Linked DNA regions of Homo sapiens: all the other regions are reported to be linked to region 3. The links are microRNA targets in miRTarBase. Many come from high-throughput screens and were not tested one by one. Region 3 holds a microRNA gene; each other region holds the end of a gene's coding sequence.
What was found. Region 3 holds the annotated microRNA hsa-miR-1304-3p (UCUCACUGUAGCCUCGAACCCC, at 2,252-2,273, shown strand). A microRNA usually pairs through its seed, bases 2 to 8, with sites in the 3' UTR of a target mRNA and lowers its output. Matches are read on the target gene's strand: a 7mer-m8 pairs with bases 2 to 8, a 7mer-A1 pairs with bases 2 to 7 and ends in A, and an 8mer does both.

Region 1: miRTarBase lists IDS as a target of hsa-miR-1304-3p. Seed matches in the 3' UTR shown: 7mer-m8 at 4,167-4,173.
Region 2: the mRNA of ZNF682 is a reported target of hsa-miR-1304-3p. Seed matches in the 3' UTR shown: 7mer-m8 at 2,511-2,517.

Annotation. Positions count from the first base shown.
Region 1 is chrX:149,479,037-149,483,262 of GRCh38, reverse strand. It overlaps IDS (iduronate 2-sulfatase), which reads left to right. Exons shown (of 9, transcript NM_000202.8): 9 at 45-4,226. The coding sequence ends at 517. Among named protein-coding and RNA genes, the nearest start is that of IDS, 24 kb to the left of the region's middle.
Region 2 is chr19:20,002,636-20,006,886 of GRCh38, forward strand. It overlaps ZNF682 (zinc finger protein 682), which reads right to left. Exons shown (of 4, transcript NM_033196.3): 4 at 1,783-4,251. The coding sequence ends at 3,370. It also overlaps the pseudogene BNIP3P12. Among named protein-coding and RNA genes, the nearest start is that of ZNF682, 35 kb to the right of the region's middle.
Region 3 is chr11:93,731,713-93,735,963 of GRCh38, reverse strand. It overlaps MIR1304 (microRNA 1304), which reads left to right and starts at 2,200; the gene lies at 2,200-2,290. TAF1D (TATA-box binding protein associated factor, RNA polymerase I subunit D) reads left to right here. Exons shown (of 6, transcript NM_024116.4): 6 at 1-397. SNORA1 (small nucleolar RNA, H/ACA box 1) reads left to right here and starts at 3,831; the gene lies at 3,831-3,960. SNORA8 (small nucleolar RNA, H/ACA box 8) reads left to right here and starts at 3,465; the gene lies at 3,465-3,603. It also overlaps SNORD5, SNORA18 and SNORA40.

The sequences.
Region 1 (4,226 bases), not on the chromosome of region 3:
CTTTTATAATGTAACCCATTCTGCTCTGTCGCTTCCTGTTTCAGGCAGGCAATCCATGGACCTTGTGGAACTTGTGTCTCTTTTTCCCACGCTGGCTGGACTTGCAGGACTGCAGGTTCCACCTCGCTGCCCCGTTCCTTCATTTCACGTTGAGCTGTGCAGAGAAGGCAAGAACCTTCTGAAGCATTTTCGATTCCGTGACTTGGAAGAGGATCCGTACCTCCCTGGTAATCCCCGTGAACTGATTGCCTATAGCCAGTATCCCCGGCCTTCAGACATCCCTCAGTGGAATTCTGACAAGCCGAGTTTAAAAGATATAAAGATCATGGGCTATTCCATACGCACCATAGACTATAGGTATACTGTGTGGGTTGGCTTCAATCCTGATGAATTTCTAGCTAACTTTTCTGACATCCATGCAGGGGAACTGTATTTTGTGGATTCTGACCCATTGCAGGATCACAATATGTATAATGATTCCCAAGGTGGAGATCTTTTCCAGTTGTTGATGCCTTGAGTTTTGCCAACCATGGATGGCAAATGTGATGTGCTCCCTTCCAGCTGGTGAGAGGAGGAGTTAGAGCTGGTCGTTTTGTGATTACCCATAATATTGGAAGCAGCCTGAGGGCTAGTTAATCCAAACATGCATCAACAATTTGGCCTGAGAATATGTAACAGCCAAACCTTTTCGTTTAGTCTTTATTAAAATTTATAATTGGTAATTGGACCAGTTTTTTTTTTAATTTCCCTCTTTTTAAAACAGTTACGGCTTATTTACTGAATAAATACAAAGCAAACAAACTCAAGTTATGTCATACCTTTGGATACGAAGACCATACATAATAACCAAACATAACATTATACACAAAGAATACTTTCATTATTTGTGGAATTTAGTGCATTTCAAAAAGTAATCATATATCAAACTAGGCACCACACTAAGTTCCTGATTATTTTGTTTATAATTTAATAATATATCTTATGAGCCCTATATATTCAAAATATTATGTTAACATGTAATCCATGTTTCTTTTTCAAATCTAAAGTTAAAAAAAAATAGCAGAAGCCAGTGTCTTAAAGTCTATCTTTTGTTTCTAAGACCATGGGATTTCATAATCTCAAGATAAAATATGTATGAAGTAATTAATGTAGAATTTTTACACCAAATAATAAATAATGCTTAATAAACTAGAGATATGAGATGTGTAGGAAATTTGGTTAAACTTTTTTCAGATACTTTCTGGCCCAAATAATAATTTGTTAGCAAATAATATGACCCTTGAACTCAATGGCCATCTATTAAAAGACTGTTGTTCACACTGGAAAACATTTAAAGATGTGACTATATCCATGGGTGGATTGAATCACTCAAAATATATTAGTATCCTTCTTTAGGGATGGTTGGTTACAGACATGTATTTATTCAGGAGGCAGAAAATATTCCATTTTAATTGCTTATTAAAGAAAACATTAAATTCTAAATTATTTTGAGGACTGTGAAGACTTTTCATTAGTGTAATATTAGGTCATTGTCAATCTCCCAGAATGTAGTTCTATATTCTCTAAATATGAAAGTATCCAGAAAGGCCAGTGGTAGTAAAAAGCTTAGTGTATATAATCTCAAAAGGGATGGAATATTTACAACTCATATTTATAACATGTTGAATCTTCTCAGTTATCAGTAGTCATCAGAAGTGTCAATAGCTTTCTAAATAAATATTAAATATCTACTGTCCTGTAGTGAAGGAGTAATTTTTAGTAATTTTCTCTTTACAAAGTCTCCAGTGTTTCCAGGTAAATATTTGTGAAACAAAATACAGCAAACTACATTGTTACTTCAGTGTATTGTTGCCAAAAATGACAAGATATTATATTAAAATCAGTAAATTTTAGACAGATTTTAAAAATTAATTAGCCTACAATAGAGGTTATATGGTAACACGGTGATCTTCTAAGCAGTTAAGTGACTGACTGTTCTGGCAACAACGACTTCTCCGTGACTGAAGGGCCCTGTTCATTTCCTGATCCTGAAGCTCGTCTCTCTTTTGAGCCTCCGCTTGCTTTGGTCGATGGTTTCCCTCAGCTTTTTCTTTGCTGTTCTTCATCCTCGTTGTTGCTGTCATCATGTTCACTGTGGCTTTTACAATACAGCCTGTAAATTCCTTATGACATAGTTCAGTGCATTTGGCTTTATTGCCTGCTCCACAGTTCTTTACCTTTACTTGGCTTAGAGAAACTGTATCTTTGTTGCTTCATATAACCTTTCCCCAACCCCACTAAGCTGGACATAACTTATTAGTGGTCCTCCCGTCACTTTATTTGTAGAAATCTCTCTTTCACATGAGCAGGGGTTCTTTCATGTGGTTTAGCTGACAGCAGAACTAGTGATTCTAGACATTTTGCATGGCCCTCATTCAGTGGCTCACAAACATGAGGGAGCATCAGAACTACTTGAGGGGCTTGTTAAAACCCAGTGCGTTAGAAGTCGGATGCGGTGGCTCACACCTGTAATCCCAGCACTTTGGGAGGCCCAGGCAGGCGGATCACTTGAGGTTAGGAGTTCAAGACCAGCCTGGCCAACATGGTGAAACCCCGTCTCTACTAAAAATACAAAAGTTAGCCGGGTGTGGTGGTGCATGCCTGTAATCCCAGCTTCTTGGGAGGCCAAGGCACAAGAATCGCTTGAACCAGGAGACGGAGGTTTCAGTGAATGAAGATCGTGCCATTGTATTCCAGCCTCGGCAACACAGCAGGACTGTGATTTTCTTTGGAGACTCCTAGATTTTCTGTGGTTTTGAACTGAATTTGTTGGATGTTGGCAAGTGCCTCTTATGAGCTGTTTCTTTATCCTGCATTTGCCCCACAAAGACTTATCTGGAGGTGAGCAAAGTATGTTTGGTAGTGAGGTCACAAAGGCAATCAGCCCCTTCCTCCCCACTCCCATTGCCATCTTCTCAGTCCTTCTCCCTTTCTTTCCAAGTAGTTTACCCACCCCTCCTCTTTCCTCCCCTGTCCCTAAAATAATCCACGTGTCTTCCTAAAATCTCTCTTTGATCCTGTCCTTTGATAACACCGTCAGTGCCTACTACTGGGTCTAGACAGACCTCTGTTGAGCAGTCAGAGTCTTCCCTGACTCCACAATGCCCCTTTCCTTGGCTGACCAGTATGACTACTGGTCCCCACCTTTCCCTTGCCTATCCCTACCTCCCTCCTACTAGGTTGTCCCATCCCTCTCTTCACCCATTCATTCATGACCATTTTTCACTACCAAGCTCCCCCCCTCCCGAAGGAGGCTGAGGTTTTTGTGACTCTCTAGACTCTATTGTGGGATGGAATGAACATTGCTAAAGAATCTTGTGTTCGCTTTACTTTAAAAAGGTATTTTTTTCCTAATTATAAAACTGATGTGTCAGTTACGGAAAAATTAGAAATGCAGCACAAATACATGAATATTTTACCACAAAATTGCCATATAATATCTTGTCTTTTTTGGGGGTGTGAATTTTTTGCATTGTTCTGGTCATATTCTTTATCATGTAATTTATGTTCTTTTTTACTAAGTATTATGTGTGGTTATTATAGATTTTCACAAAGATATATTGCTGGTAATATATTTTATTGTGTAGTCTTATAATTTACTTAACCTTCTTTCAATTGTTAGAAATTTAGGCTATTTCCAGATTTTCAGTATTGTAAATAATGCTGTGATGACCAATTTTGTGAATAAAATGTTTTTATGTATTTCAGATTATTCCCTTAGGATAGTCTCTCAGTGCCAAGTTGTCAAAAACATCTCTATTTTGCTTATCTTCCTGCTCTCTTGCTGCCTTAGGGGGTAGTAAACTGAAACATAAAGTAAACATGCATACAAATAAAAAACATAAAACAAAAATAAGCAACCTGATGGTAATAGGTGAAAGTGGTAACCTGTTTTAACTTTGAATTCTTGCCGGGCGCGGTGGCTCACGCCTGTAATCCCAGCACTTTGGGAGGCTGAGGCGGGTGGATCACGAGGTCAGGAGTTCAAAACCAGCCTGGCCAAGATGGTGAAATCCCGTCTCTACTAAAAATACAAAAATTAGCCGGGCGTGGTGGCGGGCGCCTGTAATCCCAGCTACTTGGGAGGCTGAGGCAGAGAATTGCTTGAACCCAGGAGGCGGAGGTTGCAGTGAGCCAAGATCGCGCCACTGCACTCCAGCCTGGGTGACAGAGCGAGACTCCGTCTC
Region 2 (4,251 bases), not on the chromosome of region 3:
CCTCACGGCAATTTTAATCTCCTGGAGCCACCAACTCACTCCAATTGGAACACTAATTATGGAGTGTGTATTACACATGGTAGTGCTTTTCTGTGTTTGTTCACTTCATTTATGACTAAACAACACCATGTCTGATGTAGAGACGTAAGAGTTGATAAAAAAAGAAACAAACACTACCATGACTGATGACATCTCCCTAGTGTTCACCTAAAGAAATTAACCCAATAAGATCAATAAACTCAATGTTAATTATAAAAATTAAAAGAACAACAAGGCCAGGCGCAATGGCTCACGCCTGTAATCCCAGCACTTTGGGAGGCTGAGGCGGGCGGATCACGAGGTCAGGAAATGGAGACCATCCTGGCTAACACGGTGAAACCCCGTCTCTACTAAAAATACAAAAGAATGAGCCGGGCGTGGTGGTGGGCGCCTGTAGTCCCAGCTACTCGGGAGGCTGAGGCAGGAGAATGGCGTGCACCCGGGAGGCGGAGCTTGCAGTGAGCCGAGATCGCACCACTGCACTCCAGCGTGGGCGACAGAGCAAGACTCCGTCTCAAAAAAAAAAAAAAAAAAAAAAAAAAAAAATTAAAAGAGCAACAAAGGAAAGATTGGCTTAGAGTTCTCCAATTGAAAAAAAATGTACTAAATAAAATGTTACAACATATTTACTATGAAATTACATGTTCAAATTATTTTGCAAGCACCATTAAATTTTGTAAAAATTATTCCAATAATTCCCGAGCAGATTATATAAAGAATACTTTATAAACTTTGGAACAAGAAAACTGGCCGGGCATGGTGGCTCATGCCTGTAATCCTAGCACTTTGGGAGGCTGAGGCGGGTGGATCACAAGGTCAGGAGATCGAGACCATCCAGGCTAACATGGTGAAACCCCGTCTCTACTAAAAATACAAAAAAATTAGCTGGGCGTGGTGGTGGGCACCTGTAGTCCCAGCTACTGGGGAGGCTGAGGCAGGAGAATGGCGTGAACCTGGGAGGTGGAGCTTGCAGTGAGCAGAGATTGCACCACTGCACTCCAGCCTGGGTGACAGAGCAAGACTCCGTCTCAAAAAAAAAAAAAAGAAAATTATGCATTAGGTCTACTATCAATACCAGGCAAGTAAAACCTAGATTTACTTAAGGAGATTCTGAACTAGGAACCACAAGATTTTGAAAAAATGAATTCAATACAAATGGGAAAAATAGATTTGCTTTGAAATTGTTTGAGGTTTCCAGTTTGGTAGTAACTTATCAACACTTTAAAAATTACCAGTTTGTTCTAACATATTTTCTTTCTTCTCAAAATAGGTACACATCCACATTCAAATACAATTACTTGCTTCATAATTCCCTTACACTTTATCTTTAGAGTAACATATTTGTATATTAAACTTTCATGTAAGTGAAAACTTAAAGAGTCTATGTGTGTCTGGAAGGCCACAGAGGTTGCATGTTCAAAGAAAAATGTGAGATAACATCTTCTACATACTCACTTAAGATTCAGAAATATATGGCTTTTGATTATATGCCTGTGTAATTTTCATAATAATCATCTTAATGACTCTATAATTAGAAGAAAAATAATAAAAATGTAACCTATGGAAACAATATTCTCCAACGTATTTGAAGTTTAAAGTCACTAAGGATAAGAATCACTAGAGATGCCATTCCACTATATTACTGAATAGTATGTTGTTACCGTCTGTTACCTAGAGACTTGAGTAAGGTAAAATAGGTTAATGTTGGTGGCAGGATAACACCTAATTCAATGCACAACTGTCTTAACACATTAAAAATAATTGTTTTATTGAAACTAAGTTCACACAGTCTAAGAAAAGCATTACAAAATCCACTATACTATCTAATGTGCAATTGGTAAAACAATTTACTAAAATTTGAATAATGCACAAGACTATTACTCTGAACATCTATCTCATGCAGCACTTACAAGTTTTATAAGTCAACCACAAAAGTTTCTCTGTGTACTTTCTTCACACACCTCATATTTCAGTGTCCTCAATCTTCTGTTGAAAAGTATGTAAATGACATCCTAATATAGAACTTCTCAAACCCCGAGCAGCAGAAATTGACCACATGCTTTCATACAGACACTAGGAATAAAGACACAGCATCAAGTAATTTGAGAGTTCAATTACATCAAAATTTGCCTTTGTAAAAATCTAAAATTCTTTCAATGCAAAAAGTGTACTTTGAATATAATTGTTTAAGTCTCAAAATATTAATCTCCTATTTCTGTTTAGGCTAACTAAATTATGTTAACCTTGAATTACTCTTTATAATCAATGCCCTGATTTAGAATAACATTGAAAGTGTTAGCGTCTTAGTGGTTTCTACTGTGAATCTTCTGATGTTCATTTAGACTTAATTTTTTATTAATTTTTTATATTTACTGCATCTGTTAAATGCTTTCATATAAACTAGCGTTCTTTCTTTTTTTTTGAGACAGAGTCTCTGTCGCCCAGGTTGGAGTTCAGTGGCGCGATCTCGGCTCACTGCAAGCTCCGCCTCTCGGGTTCACGCCATTCTCCTGCCTCAGCCTCTCCCAGTAGCTGGGACTACAGGCACCCGACAACATGCCCAGCTAATTTTTTGTATTTTTAGTAGAGACAGGGTTTCATCGTGGTCTCGATCTCCTGACCTCGTGATCCGCCTGCCTCGGCCTCCCAAAGTGCTGGGATTATAAGTGTGAGCCACCGCGCCCGGCCTTAAACTAGTGTTTTCTAAGGTGTACTTTTTAAACAATTTTTTTCATATTCATTACAGTTGTAGGGTTTCTTTCCAATGTAAATTATCTAAAATGGAATAAAATTTGAGCAACTGTTAGAGGGTTACCTTTCAGTATAAATTCTCCTATGTACAACAAAATCTGTAACATAAGTAAAAGTATTGCAACAATCTTTATATTTGTAATGTTTTTCTTCAGTATAAAAACTCTTGTGTACTCTAAGGCTTATATTTTTGAAGTCTTTCCATGTACAAATGTAATGTATCACTATCATTACACCTTGTGTACTCTAAGGCTTTTATTTGGTGACATCTTTCCACAGATAAATGTAATGTGTATCATTACACTTACATTGCTTTTATCTAGCACAAAACCTCTGATGAGTAAGTTCATAGTAGTTATTAAATGCTTTGCCACATTCTTTAAAATCAGAATTTTTCTCAGCATGAATTTTCTTCTGTGCAATAAGCTGTCAGCAATGGTTGAAGACTTTCCCCACATTCTTCACATTTGTAGTGTTTCTCTCCAGTATGAATTATCTTGTGATTTCAATGCCTTGAGCAAGATTTATGGAATTTGCCACATTCTTTACATTTGTAGGATTTCTCTTTAGTAAAAATTCTTACGTAGTAAGGTTTGAGCAGTGATTAAAAGCTTCCCCACATTTTTTATACTTGCAGGATTTCTCTCCTCTTTGAACTCTCTTATGTTCATTAAGATGTGAGCACCGTTTAAAAGCTTTGCCACATTCTTCACATTTATAGCGTTTGACGGCAGTATGAATTTTCTTATGTCTAGTAAGGTGTGAGCACCGATTAAAGGCTTTTCCACATTCTTCACAGTTGTAGGGTTTCTCTCCAGTATGAATTCTCTTATGTTCAGTAAGGATTGAGGACCAGTTAAAAGCTTTGCCACATTCTTCACATTTGTAGGGTTTCTCTCCAGTGTGAATTCTCTTGTGTTTAGTAAGGTATGAGAACCTCTTAAAGACTTTGTCACATTTTTCACATTTGTAGGGTTTCTCTCCGCTATGAATTACCTTATGTTCAGTAAGAATTGATGATGAGTTAAAAGCTTTGCCACATTCTTCACATTTATAGGGTTTCTCTCCCGTATGGGTTCTCTCATGTATAGTAAGTAGTGAGCAGTGGTTAAAGGCTTTCCCACATTCTTTACATTTGTAGGGTTTCTTTCCAGTGTGAATTGTCTTATGTTTGGTGAGATGTGAGTGCCGGTTAAACGCTCTGCCACAGTCTTCACATGTATAGGGTTTTTCTCCTGTATGAATTTTCTTATGTCTAACAAAGGGTGAACACCAGTGAAAGGCTTTTCCACATTCTTCACATTTGTAGGGTTTCTCACCAGTATGGATTCTCTTATGTTTAGTAAGACTCGAGCACCAGTTAAAAGCTTTGCCACATTCTTCACATTTGTATGGTTTCTCTCCAGTGTGAATTCTCTTATGTTTAGTAAGGTATGAGAACCACTTAAAGGTTTTGCCACA
Region 3 (4,251 bases):
AACCATTAAAACACCAGAGAAAATACATAGAAAAATTTGAGAAATTGTCATTTGATTTCTGAATAAGAGCTTACAGGTGTCCTGTGAGTATTGAAACAATGAAATGTAGTGATTTTAATTTTGAAAAGAAAATCTTAAAGTAACTTGACACCCAACCATCTTGAAGAGGGGATTTGAAATGCTGTAATTTTATCCCAGCTTTGTTCAGCCATGACAAGTGACCTGTCAGATGCTTAGTATTGTAATAACCTCATTTCCCTTTCCAAATTTAGAGTATCTTTAATACTATTTTTTTTAGACAGAGTCTCGATCTGTCACCCAGGCTGTAGTGCAATGGCCGCAGTCTTGGCTTACTGCAACCTCCATCTCCCGGGTTCAAGCGATTCTGCCTCAGCCTCCTTAGTAGCTGGGATTACAGGCGTTAGCCAGCACACCCAGCTAGTTTTTGTTTTTTTAGTAGAGACAGGCTTTCACCATGGTCTCGAACTCCTGACCTCAGGCGATCCGCCTGCCTTGGCCTCCCAAAATGCTGGGATTATAGGTGTGAGCCATGGCACCTGGCCTAATACTACTTTTAACTACCATTTTCACTTTTTATTAGTTCAAGAAAAGGCATACACATTTATTCAACATGTATACCTGGGGAGAACCAGTCATTACCCCGATGTTCATTATTTTGATCACCACGATAGAGCTGACTACTCTGCTATGTAGTGCATTTTGGGACTGCACTTATGTATGTTTTTGTTTAACGTGGACAAAGACTTACAGATAGGTGCAAAAAATAAATCCTCTTTTGCAACCCAGAACTCATTGTTCAGTATGAGTTTTGATACATATAAGAAGGGATATTATGATACCTGAGACAGTTGATTGATGGGAGTATTGATAGCCATAAAGGTTGGTTCCAGGCCAGGTGCAATGGGTCAAGCCTGCAATCCCCACACCAAGGTGGGAGTATTGCTTGAAACCAGGAGTTCAAGACCAGCCTAGGCAAGAAAGTAAGAAACACATCTCCACAAAAATTTAAAAATTAGCTGGGTACTGGGGCATGTGCCTGTAGTTGGAGTTACTCAGAAAGGGGGGAGGCTGAGGCAGAGTTGGAGGCTGCACTGAGCTTTGATGGCACCACTGTACTCCAGCCTGAGTAACAAAGACAGACCCTGTCTCTTAAGAAAAAAAGGTTGATTCCAGGCCTGTAGAATAGATAAACAGCATGGGATATGAGGGAAATCCTCAGCAGTATTAATTTTGCATTCCAATTTCATGTTGATGATATACACAATGGCTTTTTGTTTTAAAGGCTTTTATCTTGAGAACATGGTGTCTGGAGTTAAAGGTATGTCTCAATTTGAGTTTTCACATCATATTTGTTTATGTGTAGGAAACAGTATGTTGTCAGAGCAAGTTTCATTTTATTCAGGGACATTTCTACCATGCTTTTAATTCCCATTTATACTGATTTCTGAAAAGAAGAATCCTAGATTCACACATTTTATAGTGATGTGTCAGATTCATTTTAGTTGCAAGCATTAGAGGGTCCTGAATTTGTTAGTTTGTAGCAATAATCAGAACTTTGGATTTCCTACTTGAAGCCTACAGCATTATTTTGAATTAATGCACAATCTAAAATGAGGCAGAGGATTTTATGGTTTAATGCAAAATATAGTATAATAAAAGATGATTACACAGGTCATAAGAATTCATAAATTTGAATGATGTAGAGTTTGATTAAAAGTTATATAATGCCAAAGTCGTAACTTACAGGCACATTATATTCCTGTATTTTATAATGGATGACAATTAATTTTGAGCCAAGAATTAAAATTTGCTGAAATCTTCGAATTGGGAAAACAACATCCTCTGTTGCAATACTGAAGTTCATAACAACAGTTAGACTTTAAACTTAAATCTTAAGTTTAAATCTTTTTCCTTTGGTTCATGTAAAGGAGCTACTTGATGTTACTTTTTATTTATCATTCCTCTGGCTCCTAAGCACAACGTGATTGTGAAATTATTGTTTTTGTGATTAACGTAGTAGGAAGTTTCTGCAGTTGGCAATATTGTAAGAGCATATTGCAGTTTCTGCTCATAATTTCTTTCCTATGGAGTGTTAGACTTTGTTATTTATGTGTATAAATACTAGCTGGACACAGTGGTGCCTGTGGTCCCCAGCTACTCTGGAGGCTAAGGCAGGAGAAACACTTGAGCCCAGCGGTTTGAGGCTACAGTGAGATGTGATCCTGCCACATCTCACTGTAGCCTCGAACCCCTGGGCTCAAGTGATTCAGCAAGAATCACACGATTTTTAAAAGACATGGCAGATCCTGTGTCTTTAAAAAAAAATCAAAACCTTGTAAATAGTGGTTGAGGTCTATCCCGATGGGGCTTTTCCTGTAGCCTGCACATCGTTGGAAACGCCTCATAGAGTAACTCTGTGGTTTTACTTTACTCACAGGACTATTGTTAGATCTGTGGGAAGGAATTACAAGACAGTTGCTAAAAGTTTGAAAAAGACGGTTGCTAAACGTTATGAAAAACCAGATAATCTACTTTTTTACCTTAGGTATTGGCATACTCCACACATCTGTACCATTCTTGAGTGATCGCTTAGGTAAGTTTTAATTGGTGACAGTATAATCTTTTGGGAAATAATGATTACAGTTCAGATGATGAATTTAACTGTTCAACTGCTGAATGATAACGGGCATGAACTAAAACTTAATTCTGACAGAGCTGGATATGGCTGTATAATAAACTGGATCTTAAATTTATACTTGGGTTTTAGTTTTAATAACTGGAAATGTATCCTTTCTAAATCTTTAATTGGTACTTTCTATAGGAATGAATGTGATTTGAACTCATTCATGTTGAGAGGTAAGTAAAATATTTAACTTATAATAATCAAGGACTCAAAAGATGAAAAATAGAAATTACACCATCCCAGTATTTCAGGTATAACACAGAATTAGTAAGATACTGGCAAAAATATTACAATGTATATATTTGTATAGAGAAGGAAAATGAAGAGACTGCATGTCTATACCTACCAAACGAAACTACCTGTGTTCTTTGCATCATTATTCAACTGGCAGTTACACATATTTCATCCTAAAGTCACGTAAACCTGTGTGGATATGTTGAATCAATAGGGATATGAATTACATAAAAAGAATTTTGTGTAACTGGCAGTTTGAGCAACAATGAGCTTGACGTTTGTTGTCTGATCTGTTAAGTTACATGTATATATTCCATCTTTAAGTTTTATAGAGAGACTGGGCAAAGATTAGGCAAAGACTAGAGTTGTAGCTTAAAATGTAGTTAATGTAGCTTCCTTATTACAGTGACAATTAGGAAAAAAGCTCAAATTATTGTACTTGTTAAAGGAATTTGAGAGGTTTGTGAAAGCATTTCTCAGCAATATTGCAAATTTGGGAATACGAGTTGTACAGTTCAGTCATAATTGCACTGCATGGTATCTGCACTCAGCAGTTTACACCTGCTAGGGTGTTCAAAGGTCAGTGCTATAGAAATTCAGTATCTGGCATCGTTGGTTTTCTTGGCTTTGTGCTTGTTAAACCTGGTATTTCTACTGATACAGTATTTGTGTAGGTTTCTCAGAGTGTTCAGTTTGATATACTCTAAAATAGTAAGCAATGCTTTTTTTTCCAGGGTGTCAAATTGAGAACCAGGTAGATCCCCACCACCTACAGTAAAAAGGTAAGATTCTCTGTTTCTATTGATTCTGCTTGTTTCCCTCTATCAGTAGCACTGCCAGCATAACAAGAACTTCGTACAAATACACTACTAAGCTTTAAAGACTTTTACAATGCCTCATTCTAGAGAATGGGCACTGTTGATCATGGTGTCCAAAAATAGTTAATGTGGCTAAATTGAGACAGGTTATGCTTCCATCACAGTATGCATATTGCAGTGGTGACAATGAGACCTGTAACATTTTGCTATGTTTATGAGTAAAAATGTAGGAGAAAAATGTTGACTTTTCAATATTAGAAATAACATTTAATAAGGAATTTTCAGCTCTTATAGGACCACTTTTTTTATGTGCTGTATATTGACTGAAACATTGTAATGTGGTATACATTACTGTGTCTTGGATCAGGTGTCAAAATGTAACTGTACTTTGTACAATTCAACTTCTAGGACCCTAAAGTAAATTGGTTGAAGAAATTAGATCCCAAAGATTCTTGGTAAGTTAATTCATTACTTAAAAGGCCATGCAGGTTATTT